Regions from separate parts of the Homo sapiens genome. Here region 2 is linked to region 1. A link means that fine-mapping ties the variant in region 1 to the expression of a gene that starts in the linked region. Tissue or cell type: sigmoid colon. Region 1 holds a variant in brackets; the other region holds the start of a gene. All regions are shown on one strand. Distances are between the middles of the regions.

The links. PIP is the estimated chance that this variant, and not a neighbour inherited with it, causes the effect.
Region 2: GMDS-DT starts here. The variant in region 1 is fine-mapped to the expression of GMDS-DT in sigmoid colon (GTEx, PIP 0.98).

Annotation. Positions count from the first base shown.
Region 1 is chr6:2,382,330-2,390,513 of GRCh38, forward strand. The region is part of intron 4 of GMDS-DT (GMDS divergent transcript); the gene reads left to right. Among named protein-coding and RNA genes, the nearest start is that of GMDS-DT, 140 kb to the left of the region's middle. The variant G/A (reference allele first, on the strand shown) is at 4,350.
Region 2 is chr6:2,242,379-2,250,562 of GRCh38, forward strand. GMDS-DT (GMDS divergent transcript) reads left to right here and starts at 3,375. Exons shown (of 7, transcript NR_046229.1): 1 at 3,375-3,552; 2 at 6,459-6,548. GMDS (GDP-mannose 4,6-dehydratase) reads right to left here and starts at 3,227. Exons shown (of 11, transcript NM_001500.4): 1 at 2,943-3,227. The coding sequence starts at 3,044. RefSeq lists an enhancer at 2,869-3,369 and a silencer at 2,870-3,499.

The sequences.
Region 1 (8,184 bases):
TTGGATCGTATCATTTTAGGAATGCCTTGTTGCAGGCAAATGTCAACTGCCAGAGAAATGAAGATAGATTGAATGGCCTAGGAGGCGAGCCAGCACTGTGCCAGCCAAGGGCCAAGCCAGCCACCACACAATTCGATCCTGGCCCGGCTTTTCCCTAAGACCGTCCCCGCCGCTCCCCTGTCCTGGTGCTTTAAGGGAGAGCCGTATTTAACACGTGGCTGGTCTCCTATTTGATTCCTGGCTTCCTAATGTTAAATTTTCTTCACCTCGCAAAAACCAGCGTCCTGATTTCTTCTATCTTTCCTGACTAGTCAGGGGTAGATAATTAAGGTTGCATCTAAACCCTTCTCTCTTCCATCTTTCCCAAACATCCATCCACACTACAGGGCAGCAACATCTCATTACGTAGATTGAAGCGTTGGGAAACCAGGTATTGGTCGGTCAAGACAGGCTTGTCTAGGAAGCGACTTGGAGCACAAGCCTGAATTACTGTTGGCAAACTTTGCAACACTGTTCTGTTCCAGGAATAAGGGAGATGATGACCATGTAACTTGGAAAATTTGGTTTGGGGCAAATGATATGCTACATGATACATTTCCTGCTATGGAGAATGGCATGAACAAAAGAGGGAAGAAAGGTAATCCAAGTGGTCTTCAGTAAGAACGCCTTAGCCTCCGAAAGCCTGGTAAGGTTATGTGTTCAGAGTCTGAAATCCACATGCATGAGGCAGATGTTTCAATTTCTGATTTCATTTCAGGATTGTGATGTTGAAAACAAAACTGCTTAGAAATTATTTTTGAGATTTTTATGGTAGGAGGCCTAACTAAGCTGTGACCTCTTGTGGGAAGAAATTTTTAAAAATAGACAAGCGTGAAACTTACAGAAAAAGAATTTTTATTTCTTTGTCCAACAAAGAAGAACTTCTTGTCATCTATTTCTTACCAATTTGGTTTTATCACCATTATTATAATTTTCTTTTAGTTTGGCAGTTAGTATTGTGAACTCTTGGGTAAAGAGGTTTTTGTTTAGAATTATAGCGTTTCTTGGAGCAGTAATTCACACCCGTTCAGCCTTATTTGCATTCACATCGGAAATTTCCAACCAGGACACTTACTTGGGCCAACTTTTTCTGGTCAGTTTTCTGTAGTGTGTTACTTAGCTTGTCTAGAGTCCACTAAAATGCTTTTCAGACATGTTCAGCTGCTGGAAGCTTGTTAATTTTGGGCACATGTAGGACTCTAATTGACATGAAATATAATTTACATATCTGTGATGAATACATTCTTTTTTTTCCATCTATTATCCTGATTTTCTTTTTCCAATAAAGGGCTTATCTTTTACATGTATTTGTATCTAATCAGTATCTAATTCTTCATCCTGTCTCCTGTTTGTTCATTATCATGAGTTCAGCATGGTTTGGTTTATAACTGATTCTCTTTTTTTAAAAAATTTAATTTTATTATTATTATACTTTAAGTTTTAGGGTACGTGTGCACAATGTGCACGTTTTTTACATATGTATACATGTGCCATGTTGGTGTGCTGCACCATTAACTCGTCATTTAGCATTAGGTATATCTCCTAATGCTATCCCTCCCCCCGCCCCCCACCCCACAACAGTCCCCGGTGTGTTCTCGAAGAACTCAACTGGGCAAATACTAGGTCATAGGCATATTTCATGCCTATGTGTGAGGCTTTATTTTATGTGAACAGAGCAAGCACATATTTTATCTTGTCCGGAGATACGTGGGTCATAGAGGTGAAGTTAAAAAAAAAAAGAGAGAGATCCAGATAGAAAAAAAGTTAATATTCCCTCTACTTTTGTGCAGATTTGAAAATTTTTATGATAAAAATGTTTTAAAATATCTCATATATACAGTCAATCCTCATTATTTGCCATTCCATATTTGCAAATTTGCCTGCTTGCTCAAATGTACTTGTAACCCAGATTTCACTATGTTGGCCAGGATGGTCTCAAACTCCTAACCTCAGGTGATCCACCTGCCTCGGCCTCCCAAAGTGCTGGGATTACAGGCTCCAAGTCTTATTTCTATTGTTTCCTTTTAGCTGTGGCAATTGCCATTGCGACCTCCTGGGTAAAGAGGTTTTGTTCCAAATGATCTACAGAGTAAAAGCTAGCAGGTCTATTCTCACTGCCCCGTTCTGAGGTTTCTCTCTCTGATGGGCTGCACTGTCCACAGGATCAGGAAACATGAATCTTCCTGAACTAGTAAGAGTTTATTTATCCCCCAGACCTCACATAGTACCTGGCAGGCAGTAGGTACCCAATTGCATGACTGCATAGAATACTAATGAAATGTACAGTCGTAAAACATGTTAAATTAAAAATCTTACAAAATAAGTAGTGACTAATGTCTAATATAACAGCTGGGAAATGGTACCCGCAGGGCAGAAGCTGTCTTAGATGTTTAGAGACTTAGTATTGGTTACAGAACCTATAAAATGCACAGAAAAATAACCATATACGTCTATAAAACCACACAGATTTCTTGTGATAAATAATAGAGTTTATGGATTTTATTGGTTTGGCAACTGACAGCAATAACTGTAAATAAACAACTGAGGTAACCTTTATTAGTTAGACCAGAATAGTAAAATATTGCCCAGGGGACAGAAAAGCAAAATTTTAAAGCTGATATCCTGGCTTGGGAATTATTTCACAATTAAGGTAACTTCTATCAAGAGGGCAATATTTTCCAGCTGTTCCCTGGAACCTTTACCATTTACATTCTGCTTTGTATTTTTGTTGAGTAATAGAAGCAATTAATTCTAAGCATTATAGTTTATTCTGCATTTGGGCATCACGATTCCGAGGAATGGATTTTTTTTTTTTATCCAGGCAGTTGAACAGGATATAAATGTCATTTTAATAATAGGAACTGAGAATTTAATACTATGGTATTAAACTGTAAGTATAAGTGAATAATACTAGTCCTAGCTCACTTGATTTCCTACAGAATTCTGGCCTATTCATGGAATTTTTATTAAAGGAATGCAGTACTGCAACTTTTTTTTTTTTAAGTAAAGAAGATTTCAACAGAAATGCAAAGGAAAAAAAGGAAGATACACATTGAGATACTTATACAGTTCTTGGTATAAAAAAATTCTCTTTGTCCAAAATATTCAGTAAAAAAACGAGAGGTAAGATGCGGTTTTCTCTTGAAGCATTTCCTTCACTCTTCATGTAACTTGGCTACATCAGTGTATGAATAAATATGGAACTACTTGAGGCCATACTATATATATTTTAAAAACCCAAGAATACTTTTGGAAAAGCCAAAAAGTATCAGCATAAAGTGAAAAATAAAATGAAACAGAAACTTTTCCGACCAAACAGACGTAAGCCAGATGTTAGAGTCTCCCGTGCAAGGAGGGCCGTGTAAGGCCCCTGTAGCTGTGCCGAGTGCATGCTAATGTGGCCAGAGAGAGGTACATGGCTTAAGCTCACTCTCTTTACACATAAAAATGACCGTTTCTCTCTGTTTTATTGTGGCACATTGACGTAAATATGGCTAGCTATGGCAATAAAAATCATGACTAGCTATTTTATAACTCAAGTCAGAATTTTCATTGAGTGAAAGAAAGAGGATATGTTACCAATGAAGAGAGATGTTTGATCAATTAAAATGAAAAACATATTTACTATACTTAACTCCTGTATATTTAAATATTATCCTACTACAAACTTAAAAAGAAAAACTTTTCACTTACTTTTCCAGTGCTTTTTATGTTCTTCCCTTTCTTCTGGGTTTGCTGCCTTCTGCCAACTAAGCCACTATTTAATACACTTTCATTGAAACAAACTTCCGCCCTAACCAATCTGGGATGCAAAGAGAATCACAAGTTTTATTTAGGCACTTTGCGTTTTGGAAATTAAACAGAAAAAAATATCAATATTCTTCTCCCACTGGCACAAACACATTACTTTTCTTTCTTTTTTTAGTTTTTTTCAACAAGGAGGAAAGGAAGATTAAAGAAATGGGATACTCGTAAAAATCTGTTTTCCACAGACATGCCTTATGTGACAGGCTGTGACCTAGAACCACATGCTTTTGGGGCTGTGGGCATGGTGACTATTTCTTGGCAGAAAGACAGATTTCAAGCAAGTACTCACTCTACGTCCACCCAAATAGGTTCCGGAACTTTTTGGCTCATAGGTGTCAAGGTCTTCGTGCACCTGAACCTGTAGAAGGCCGAGGGGAAATACACACAATATTTTTATTATAGGACTGTCCTTCTTGAAACACAGCCTGCAGGGCTCATGGTTTGAATTATAGGGTGTCTCATGTGAGGTTCTCACATCTGGTTTGACAATCATTTTTTCAAAA[G/A]TGTAGTCTTTTGTGAGCTTGTGACGCAAAATGATATGGTAAAATGAACCCAGGCAACTCACAGTTGCTTAAGTTGCAGTAGTTACAAAACTAAGAGAAGGGAAAAATAAAACTGGACAGAGTGCAATGTAATAAAATCTAATATATGAATAGGAGGCATATCTAGTGTCTGTCTACCTGTGGTGGGCTGAATGGCTACTCCCCAGAAGGATATGTCCACATCCTGATCCCTGGAACCTCTGAATGTGACTTTCTCAGGAAGGAGGGTCTTTGCTGACATAATCAGGGGAAGGATCTCAAGATGAGAAGACCATCCTGGATTAGGTGGGTGGGTCCTGAATCCATTGACAAGTGTCCTTATAAGAGACACTTGGAGGAGAGACAGAGAGAAGAGGAAGCAGGAACATGGCTACGGAAGTGGAGATTGGAGTGATGTGGCCACAAGCAAAGGAACACCAGAGCCACCAGAAACTGAAAGAGGGGAGGAACGGATTCTCCCCTAGAGCCTCTGCTCTGGGGGAGTGTGGTCCTGTGGATACCTGAATTTCTGATTTCTAGCTCCAGAACTGTGAGAGAATAGATTTCTGTTGTTTTAAGCCACCCAGTTTATGATACTCTGTTACAGTAACTACAGAAAACTAATTATCTATCTATTGGTCTATCTATCTATCTATCTATCTATCATCTATCTATCTATCATCTGTCTATCTACCTATCTACCTACCTACCTACCTACCTGATATGGTTTGGCCGTGTCCCCACCCAAATCTCATCTTGAATTGTAGCTCCCATAATTCCCACCTGTTGTGGGAGGGGCCCGGTGGGAGGTAATTGAGTCATGGGGGTGGTTTCCCCCATATCGTTCTTGTGGTAGTGAATAAGTCTCACAAGATCTGACAGTTTTATAAGGGGAAACCCATTTTGCTTGGCTCTCATTCTGTCTTGTCTGCCTCCATGTAAGACATGCTTTCGCCTTCTGCCATGATTGTGAGGCCTCCTCAGCCACATGGAACTGTGAGTCCATTAAACCACTTTTTCTTTATAAATTACTCAGCCTTGGGTATAAATTACTCATCTTAATGTCATCAGTGCTTATCTCCTCACTGGGTTGGTTTTTGCCAACCCATTCCTATTTGTTTTATACATATTTCATTATCCCATGTACTCCAGAACAACTTTACCTATTAACTGAAAAAATGATCAATTGTAACCATTCTGAATTTGAGACAATACCTGCTTTCTGCATTCCACTTTATTACGTATATACATATACACTAAAATATGTGCGTATGTAAATACCTGCTTTCTGCATTCCACTTTATTACGTATGTACACATACACTAAAATATGTGCATATGTAAATACCTGCTTTCTGCATTCCACTTTATTACGTATATACACATACACTAAAATATGTGCGTATGTAAATACCTGCTTTCTGCATTCCACTTTATTACGTATATACACATACACTAAAATATGTGCGTATGTAAATACCTGCTTTCTGCTTTCCACTTTATTACGTATGTACACATACACTAAAATATGTGCGTATGTAAATACCTGCTTTCTGCATTCCACTTTATTACGTATATACACATACACTAAAATATGTGCGTATGTAAATACCTGCTTTCTGCGTTCCACTTTATTACGTATGTACACATACACTAAAATATGTGCGTATGTAAATACCTGCTTTCTGCATTCCACTTTATTACATATATACATATACACTAAAATATGTGCATATGTATTAAAGGGAACTTTGTGTTGTTGGATGCCCTCTCCAGTTTCTGGGTTAGTGCTCGAGCCTCAAAGAGAAAGGGACTGTGTGTCTTCGGTCCCTTTACAGCGGCTCTGATGACCAGGCTGTTTACTGATCACAGTTTTCAGGCAGGTCCTTTCGACTTAAATTGAAAGTAAGTCAGAATATGTGTTAACAAAACCAGGAAACCAAAGCCATTCAACAAGATCTGCTTCTATTCCATTATTCTTTAGTTCACTCTGTGATATCGGGCCACATCAAGTCCCTTCAGCCAGCTCCCCAGGAGTTGCTTGGGCCATGTTTTATGTGTCATCTGTCACTAGGTGCTCCCATTCTTAATGTCCCTCTGCACATCTCCTCGCCACCATCCGTGCTGAGTTGTCATTTCATCCATCAGCCACACAGCTCTGATTAGGTTCTGCATCAGGACTCGAAGGGTTTGACTGCCCAGCTCCCCATCCCTACACTGCTGCTAATAGGCCCCCACTTTCCTTCTGGAGACTGTCTCCTCCCCAACCCCACTGCTACACACACACACACACACACACACACACACCTTCACACACACGCACATGCACTCATACATGTACACCTACACACTCCCCACATACCTACACCTCCACATATGCACACACACCCCATGTATGCACACATACCAGTGCATACATATGCACACACACCATGCACACACAAACACACACTCCACGTACACACAAACACGTGCACATACCCAGGCACCCATGCGTGTATGCACACTCCCTGAACACACCCCACACCCACACCCAGACCCTAATACACATACACACATACACCCCTGCATGTACACGGTGCACACACACAAATACCCTATATGTGTGCACCCGCATGCACACTCCCCATCACCACATTCCACACAATTCTCAGGGTCCCTCAACTACTGGGACCAGCCACTGTGGCTGGATAGTGTCCCTGTGACTCATCCAGCACAAGATTCAGACCTAACTGGGGTTCATCAAAGACCTTCCGGGAGATGCCCACGGATGTGGGGGAAAGAGTGGGCACCCTGGTTTTTCTGGGTGTGCTGGAGGCTGAAGGGGTGATGAAAGCCTGGAACTTCCACTGACCATTTTGCCACTGCGAGGAGAGAACTCAGGCAGGAATCAAATGAATTCAGGAAAGTGGAAAGTGGAGGAGGGGCCACAGGAGAGAGGGAGAGAAAAGAAGGGACTGAGAGAAAGAGAAAGGGAAGAGGAGGGAGAAAGAGAATCATCTTCATCTCTGGATCTCACAGGGGGTGAAGCAACTGCTTACCTTGAACTTAAGTCTTGGGAACCAATAGAATCCCTCTTTTGCTTAGGCTAACTTGAGCTGGAATCCCACAACCTGCAACACAAATTGCCCCCATGGATCTGGTTGCTCTCCTGGTTAAGAGAGCATGCCTAAGGCCCATGGTTCTTGGTAAGTTCACCTGTTCCCTATGCACAACCTCAGCATTGCCCTTTAAGCCCCTGTATCTTACAATCCAGTCATCCTGAGTGACTTGCAGCTTCCTGAATACAAAAGGATGTTTCACCCTCAGGCCTCTGTACATTTATTCAGTCATTTATTCCAGAAATATTTACTGAGGACTTATTTTCTAAGCACTGGAGATATAGCAGCAAACAAAACAGAAAACAATTTGCTGCCTTCATGAGGTTTGCGTTTTAGCAAAGGTGAGAAAACAGGATAGGATAGAACTAAAATTAATAAGTAAAATATGGAGTATGTGCAGACAGATCACAGAGGCACCATGTGACCCAGTAACTCCACTCGTAGCTGCACACCCGGGAAAAGTGAAAACATCACATCACAAAAAACTCGTGTTCACAGGAGCGTTATTCATCATGGCCCCAAAGTGGAAACAGCTTCATAGTTCATGGACGGACTGGATGTGGACTGTGAGCACAGAAAGAGTCAAGAATAATTCCGTGTGCTGTCCCTTTTGTCTGAAAGGCCTCACCCTGTCATCAGAGCACCTGCTGGTTGTCTGTGCCCTGGATTCACCGGAAGCACATGGATGACAGGGCTGTATTCCTGCTGCTCAGCACC
Region 2 (8,184 bases), 140 kb before region 1:
TTAATAAGGTTCCCACTTTGGAAAAGGAGTGTGTCAAGAACCGATGGGAGGGGAAGGCTAGAATAAGAAGCCTGACAATACGTACTAGAGATACACAGCAGACAGGACACCCTGGCTGTCCGCACTATTCTCAAGCGGGAATTTGGGACAACCCATTTAAGAGCCCATCTTGGCACAAATGCCATGATAGCCCCAAGTGCCAGAGCAGTGGCATTTGAATCTGAAATCTCTTCTTAGAGTAAGACTATTTATTTCTCTCTGTCTCATAAGGCTCACCACAGTCTGTATAACAAAATGACTTACAGCAACTGCTGAGATCTGGGTTCAGATCTCAGTTCTGACACTCATTAGATGTACGACCTCAGGGAACATATTTAACCTTACTTAGCCAGGGATAAATGGGGATACTTATTATACCTGTCTCTTAGGTAGGGATATACAAAATGCTTAGCAGAGTGAATAGCTCAGTAAGTTCTCAGCCAATATTATTAAGAAAACATACAATAAGGTATGGATTTTCAGACCCCTTGCATTAACACCACAGTGCTCCAGAGATCCTTGATACTCAAGTTGGGAGTCACTGTCCTGGAATACAAATAAAAAACATAAAAGAGCAGTAAATTCCATCTGCAAGTGTTTATGTGGTAGCTACAGAATTCAGCACTATGCTAGGGGTACAGAAGCCAATGCAACACCAAATGAGGAGACAATGCAGAGGGCAGATGCCGGAGGGAAGAAAGAAACACTGGGGCAGAGATTCAACCCAACCTGAAAGCCATGCAGGTGTTTTAAGTTGGAAATGAAATGAGGAACCAAAAAATTCCAGTCAGGGAGTGGTCTGCTGAGTGTGGTGCTTCAGGTAGACTCCCATGACAGGCTGCAGGACAAACTAGAGTGGGGGCCCACTTCCATACCTTCCTGGCCACTCAGTTCCAGCCAAATGACTGCTCTTAAAAGTCAAAATTAGGTTCCATTTCTAATCTGCACTGATTCATACTGCTGGTCGTGTAAATTGGTATAGGCCACACCAACACAGCACATTAGTTAAGATGTTAATCTTAACTAATTTCCGGACAATACTAAAATAAAATCTCTACTTTCCAGAGATTAGGTAAACTTGGTAAACATTTGAGCTTCAGGTCCAGTCTGACAAAATGGAAAAAAGGGAATCATCTGCAGAAAGGTCCCAGCATTAGAAAACAAAGAGAAGGGGGAGGACAGTATGTAGGCCCTGACCTGTCTTACTGCCTCAATTCAAGGATTCAATTTCTCAACCTCAGATCCTTGCCCTCTTACTAGTTTTCAAACTCAGATCCACCTCTTACTAGTTTTCAAACTCTTGTCTATTATGATTACCTTAAGCAAAGCAAGATGCATGAATAACCAGCAGTAAATCAGGTATTCAATACTTGAAATTGTGTAATATTCTGTGACTGTGCATCTGGCCAATTTCAACTTCTCCTTCTTTTTTTTTTTTTTTTTTTTTTTTTTTTTTTTTGAGGCAGGATCTCACTCTCTTGCCCCAGGCTGGAGTACAGTGGTACCATCATTGCTCACTGCAGCAGCCTCAGACTCCCGGACTCAAGTGATCCTCCTGCCTCAGCCTCCTGAGTAGCTAGCACTACAGGTGAGCACCAACATGCCTGCCTCATTTTTTAAATTTTTTTGTAGAGACAACGTCTCAATATGTTGCCCAGGCTGGTCTCAAACTCCTGGCCTCACCTCGAGCAATCCTTCCACCTCTGCACACCGAAGTGCTGAGATTTCAAGTATGAGCCGCTGCCTCCTGCCCACTTAGCCCTTTCTAACACTAGAGAACTTTGAGAGTGGTTTCAATACCAACTGGACACTTCCCAGCGGTTTAACCTCAGGCAAATCAAACTCCCATGCCTCAGTTTCCACATATATAGAGATAATAAAAGTACCTCCTCAAAGAGTTTGTTATGAGAACTAAATGAGTTAATGTTAGGCAAGCGACTGGAACATGATAGACACAATATGTATTAGCCATTATCACCTTTATCTCAGTGTTATATTGGCCACCACCCAGAGATACCCAGGAGCACACACATCACATTCTTTCTACAGCAATATGTGGGCACGATTACTTCATGACCACTGAATCTAAAACAGCACAGCTTGGTAAGACACAGCGGTCGGATCCCACCTACTGCAACACCTCTAAGAGGCGACCCTCACAAACCAGCCATGCTTAGCCTGAGACATTCCGAAGACCTCCTCTTGATTACCTTACTCGACGAACTTATTCCTTTGAAAATGGAACTAGCCGCACTTTTGGACCAGTGTGCCTCGGATACACTTCCAAATGTGTCAACCTGAATCTCAGAAGTTGGCGTGATTTTAAAAAGTTTTTTAAGTTCTTTTTCCTAAACATGTCCTAGTAGGTGACTCCACAGCATTACTTTCTTTCATGTTCTCTTTTCTATCTGGAAATCCGGTGATAGGGGACGAAACCAGCAAAGCACCCTTTTTCTTGCTTCCCAAACGTTAGCAGGTAAGCGCCCCTTGAGCCGAGACACATCAAGAAGACCTCACCCGCAAGTTCATTGATCACCGGTTCTTTTCCCTTTCCGGCACTAGGAGCTGCGAAGCACGACATGGGCTTGGAGGAAGAGACGCTGCGGTCACCTGAGGGGCAGGTGAGAGCGGGCGGTCCTGCCCGGGTGTGAGCGCGACATCCCGCGCGGCACACACGCTCACAGCCCCCAGAGAAAGACCAGAGGCGCTCGATGTATCCCGCACACCCCACACGCAACACACTAACTGCACCGTACCTTCCGTCCCACCTCCCGGCAGCAGACCCCTTCCGGGACGCCGAGAGGGCTGTTCCTGGAGAGACCGCAGCCCACGAGTAGCGGCGCGTAGGGAGAGCACGCGTGCCCAGGCTGCCTCGGCCGGCGCGCCCCCGCCCCCGCACTCACCTGGCCTGTGATACCGGTGATGAGCGCCACGTTCCTGGGCTTGCCCATCTCGCCGTCCCCGGAGCCCCGGGCGCTGGGGCAGCGTGCCGGTGCGTGTGCCATGTCCCGCGGCGGGCGTGCGGTCGGCGGCAGGGCGGAGCGCGGCAGAGGGCAGGCGCGGTGCCGGCAGGAACGCGGGGGTGTGCAGCACGAAGCGCCTCTCCAGGCTGCGGGCAGGGAGGGAGAGCGCACCGCGCGACCGGCCGCCACAGTCTGACAGGGGCGCACGGGAGGCCGTGCAGGGAGGGCCGGGGGCGGGCCGAGCCGGCCAAGGCGGGCCCGACGGGCCAAGCAGCGGGGCTGCGGCCTGACTGGCGCAGCGTCATTCGCGTCAGCCGGCGACGCTGTAGCAGGCCCCGCCCCTCCGCCGACGGCCACCGCGCGGGAGGGGCGGGGCCTGCCGCCGCCACCGCCTCAGGGAAGAGGAAGGAGGCCGCGGCTTCGCGTCCCGCCTCTCGCCTGGCTGGCCGTGGGGGGCCTGGACGCAGTGGCCTCCCGAATCTCCCAGGACCCTAATATCGCCCGAGGATGCTGGGAGGAACGCTGAGCCGACCTCTCCGTTAGGCTGAAGGTCTGAATTTTCAAACCCAGGGGTCACAGGGCCGGGGTCATGGACTTTGATAAATAATTCCTGGAAACCTGTTGCAGTGCCCTTTGAGAAGCCCGGTTTATGGTACCTGAAGGGCAGTAGCGTACAAGGCCCGTAAACGGGGGTCACAGATGTGGGAGTGACTAACTAGGCTGGCTCTCGCTCTTCTGGCCTTTCCTGAGGCTCGGAACCAGTAACGAGGTTCCAAATAGCTGAATTCAAAGTTTTCTCTTCTGAGGACTGCCAGTGCACAAGAAAGTCCCTAGCCCCACCCGTATGCGGCATAAGGAAATGTTGAAAAGACTGCCCGGGTCAATAAACCTGGACGTGGCAGATTTCAAAGAAAGTAATTCAAACACAGGTGGGGTCCCGGCTTACATCTGTTGGATTTGGCTGCCATTTGGCAGCTGCTCGTTGGACAGGGAGAGGAGAGGAGGTGACTCAGAGCCGGGAGGGCAGCAGGTGTGTGTGCCTAAGCAGTTGGCTGCAATCCAGGACACAGACGGAAACTTCCCGGTCTCCGTTGCTCTGCTTCTCTGTCCACATTCCTCTCCCTAATCGATAACTTCAGATCATCATTTCAAATCACAGAGTTACTAGGGCTGTGCCCAATATAACGTGCAAGAGTATGTATAGCAGACCTGGAACCCCAAAATCAGAAAAGCTCAGGATTACATTTAAAACCTCCCTCTCGCGCTCCTCGAGGTCCGTTAGGAATATTTCTTAGCTATAGATAGACTGGTCTGGTTTCACACCTGGCCTCTCCTCTGCGTTCTATGAGGAGAATGGCTCAACAAACATCTGATGGTGCCTCTGAGTGATGAAGAGACCCTGAAGCTGAGGAGAGGGAACACTTCCATTGAGAGGAACATGCTATAAGCTAGAAATGTCTGTGAAATATACGGGAATATGCTAAAACTATACTCATTTTCATGTAAATACGCTTTAAATTAATGCATGAGCCAATTATTTAACATTTTCCTTAAAAAAATCACTGAGCAAGCCGGGCGCAGTGGCTCACGCCTGTAATCCCAGCACTTTGGGAAGCTGCGGCAGGTGGATCACCTGAGGTCAGGAGTTCAAGACCAGCCTGGCCAACACGGTGAAAACCCGTCTCTACTAAAAATACAAAAAATTAGCCAGGCGTGGTGGTGGGCACCTGTAATCCCAGCTACTCTGGAGGCTGAGGCAGAAGAATCGCTTGAACCCGGGAGGAGGAGGTTGCAGTGAGCCGAGATCTTGCCATTGCGTTCCAGCCTGGGCAAGAAGAGCAAAACTCCATCTCAAAAAAAAAAAAAAAAAATCACTGAGCAAAACTGATACTTATGGGAGATATGACACATTTATCCTGTAGTTTTGAGACCTCCTATCACACAAACACTGGAAGTTGACACCAGTCAATTTCCTGTCACACCACCAAACACCTGCCCTAGAAGTGTGTGACAGTAGAAGAAAAATGGAAAAAAAATCAACATTATTAGGGCCTGAAAATATTTATAAAATGATGGGAAATGGTAGGTCAGAGGAAGCTTGAAGAATAAAGGCTATTTCTCTAGAGAACTTTTCTGAAGACAGGTGGTAGGTCTGCTACAGCAACGTACCATCCATAGGGTGACAAACGATAGAAATTTATTTCCTCACAGTTCTGGAGACTGGAAGTTTAGGATCAAGGGCTGATTTCTTCTGAGGCCTCTCTCCTTTTCTTGTAGCTGGCTGTCTTCATGTTCACATGGCGTTCTCTCTGTATGTGTGTCTGTGTCCAAACTTCCTGTTCTTATAAGAACACCAGTTACATTTGATTAGGACCCTCTTTAATGACCTTATTTCCAAATACAGTCACATTTTGAGCTACTAAGAGTTAAGACATCAATATATTAATTGGGGGAGGGACAAAATTCAACCCATGATTGACAGCTAGAGGGAAAAAGAGGTTCTTTTTTTTAACTGTTTGTGGGCTCGGAGGGAGGAGGTTGGTAGTGGAGGTTGTTGTCATTTTCCCAGTAGCATTAGGGCAACTTGAACAACGTCAGCACAGGGTCTGGGGCAGCATAAGAAGATTACATTAACTAGAAGTAAAGCGACCAGCGGTAGTGGAAAGCTCTAAGGGTGATGGCTCAGTTGTGTTTTCCTCTAACACAGTTCTCATCCCTGGGTGATTTTGCCCCCAGGGGACATTTGACAATGTCTGGAGGCATTTTTGATTGTCACAAATGGAGTTGTGCTATAGGTATCTAATGAGTAGAGGTTAAGTATTTTGCTCACCATCTGCAGTGCACAGGAAGCTCCCACAACAAAGATTTTTCTAGCCCAAAATGTCAATAGTGCTGAGGCTGAGTAACCCTTCTCCAGGAGGCCAGTGAAAGATGTTAACAAGCGGGTGGTTGAACTGACAGACACTGGCTATACTATACAGTGACTTCATGGTATGTCAGAAGAAGCAAATACATTTGGTAGCTAATTGTTGATGCTGATACCTTTACTCACAAACTTGGCTAATCTCCAGAAACATACTAGCTGCTGAGGGTATAGCAGTAGAGGAGAAATAATCTTCAAGGGGCTATAATCTGAAAGGGATATGATATTGAATCATTTTATGACTTTTCATAACATTTTCATATTTGTTTTAATATGATACAAAATATAGAGAAAAGAGTGAGGCCTCCAACTCCAAGTCCTCTAATTGGATAAAAGTCAATCATTCTGTACAAGACTAAATATGTGGAATAACATTTTTCACTTCTTTCTTTCCCATCTCTTGCCACTGAGTGCATGCCAGTTATTCAAGAACGATTCTCCAGCATTCCCTTTAAAATTCTCTCTCCTCTCCTTTTTTAAACATTTCTTTCCTTTGCTTTTCACATGGAACATTTGCTGATCTTCTTTCTCAGATTGCACAAACCATGCTAATGGCCAGCATGGATGGAGGGAGCGTGTGAGATGTGTGGGGCAGCGTGCTGCATCTCAGCCAACTCCAGGAGGTAAGTGCGTCTGCTGTGGTGAAATCTATATTTGGTCTTCATTTCTGTTTTCCTGGCATATGATTTCTAAAATGCTTAGAATCACCAAAGCGATGTATTTTGTAGGGTAATGAGTGAGTTCACTGTTGGCTGGCAGCCCTTAGGTGGCTTCAGGGTGGAAACTGGTCATTGTAAAGACCAATGCAGGATTAGAGGGCTGGGACTTTCAGCCCCATCCCCTAACCTCCAGGGAGGAGAGAGAAGCTGATGGTTAAGTTGATCACCAACGGCCAACGATTTAATCAATCATGCCGACATAATGAAGCCTCCATAAAAACCCAAAAAGGACTGTGTGCAGAGAGTTCTAGATAGTTGAACACGTGGAGGTACATGGAGGGTGACGCTTCAGGGTGGGCACCAAAGCTCCAAGCTCCTCCTATTCCTTGCCCTGTACATCTCCTCATCTGCATCCTTTGTCATATACTTTGTCATACCAGTAAACTGGTAATCCTGAGTAAGAGATTCCCTGAGTTCCGTGAGCCACTCTTTCAGATTAATAAACCTAAGAAGGGGGTCACGTGAAGCCCACTTTTTGGCCAGTCAGAAGCACAGGTAGAATAACCTGGGGCTTGCAATTGGCATCAGAAGTTGGCGGGGGCACAGTATTGGGGACTGAGCCCTTGACCTGTGGGATCTGATGCTATCTCCAAGGAGACAGTGTCAGAGTTGAATGGAATTGAAGGGCACCCAGCTGGTGTGCCCTATAGAATTGATTGCCTGCTTGTGGGTGGGAAGAAATCCCATGCATACTTGGTCACAGAAGTCTTCTCTGTTGATTGGTGTTTTGTTAGAGCAGGGGAAAAACAATTTGAGTTTGTCCACACTCAGTATGATAATGATCTTTATTTCATAGAGTCAGAAACTGAGGATTGGAAACATTAATAAACTCGCCCAAGGCCACATAGCTAGTGGCTGGTTATGGTAGATATTATGCTCATTCAACTCCCATTCCATACTCTCTTTGGAAAAATTAGAGTGCTCAAAGCCACATGTCCCAGACCATTTTGCATCTCATATATAGGAAGCAAATTGAGCTTTGTCAATTAGATGCGTTCCTGCTCAATCTGGCAGGTGGAAGTGAAACAGAAGCCATCCTTCTGCTTTCTGGTCCAACTGACATGAGGATTAACGGCAGTTAGAGTCCAAGTTTGGGTCTAGTCACCGTTTTCATGGGCATGAGAGCCACTTGGGTTGGGGGAGCAGCATGGCAGCAGGAGTGGTTTTCTGAATTCTGGCCTTCAGCTATGGTGGTAATGTCCTGACATCAACAACTGAAGGCCCTCCGAGTTCTCTTCCTCTGTCTCATAAATATTTTTTTCAACTAATAATTGTAGATTCAAATGTATTTTTAAGAAATACAGTGAGTGACATGGTCATGTCTTCAAATACTATAGAGCAATAGCACAAGCAGCATATTGGCGTTGATAGAATTCACCAATCTCATTCAGATTTCCTCAGTTTTTGTACTCATTTGTGCAAGAGTATGTGTATTTACTTGTGTACCGTTTGGTTTGGTTTGTTTTGCCTGAGACAAGGTCTCACTCTGTCATCCAGACTCACTTGCAGCCTCAACCTCCTGGGCTCAAGCCGTCCTCCT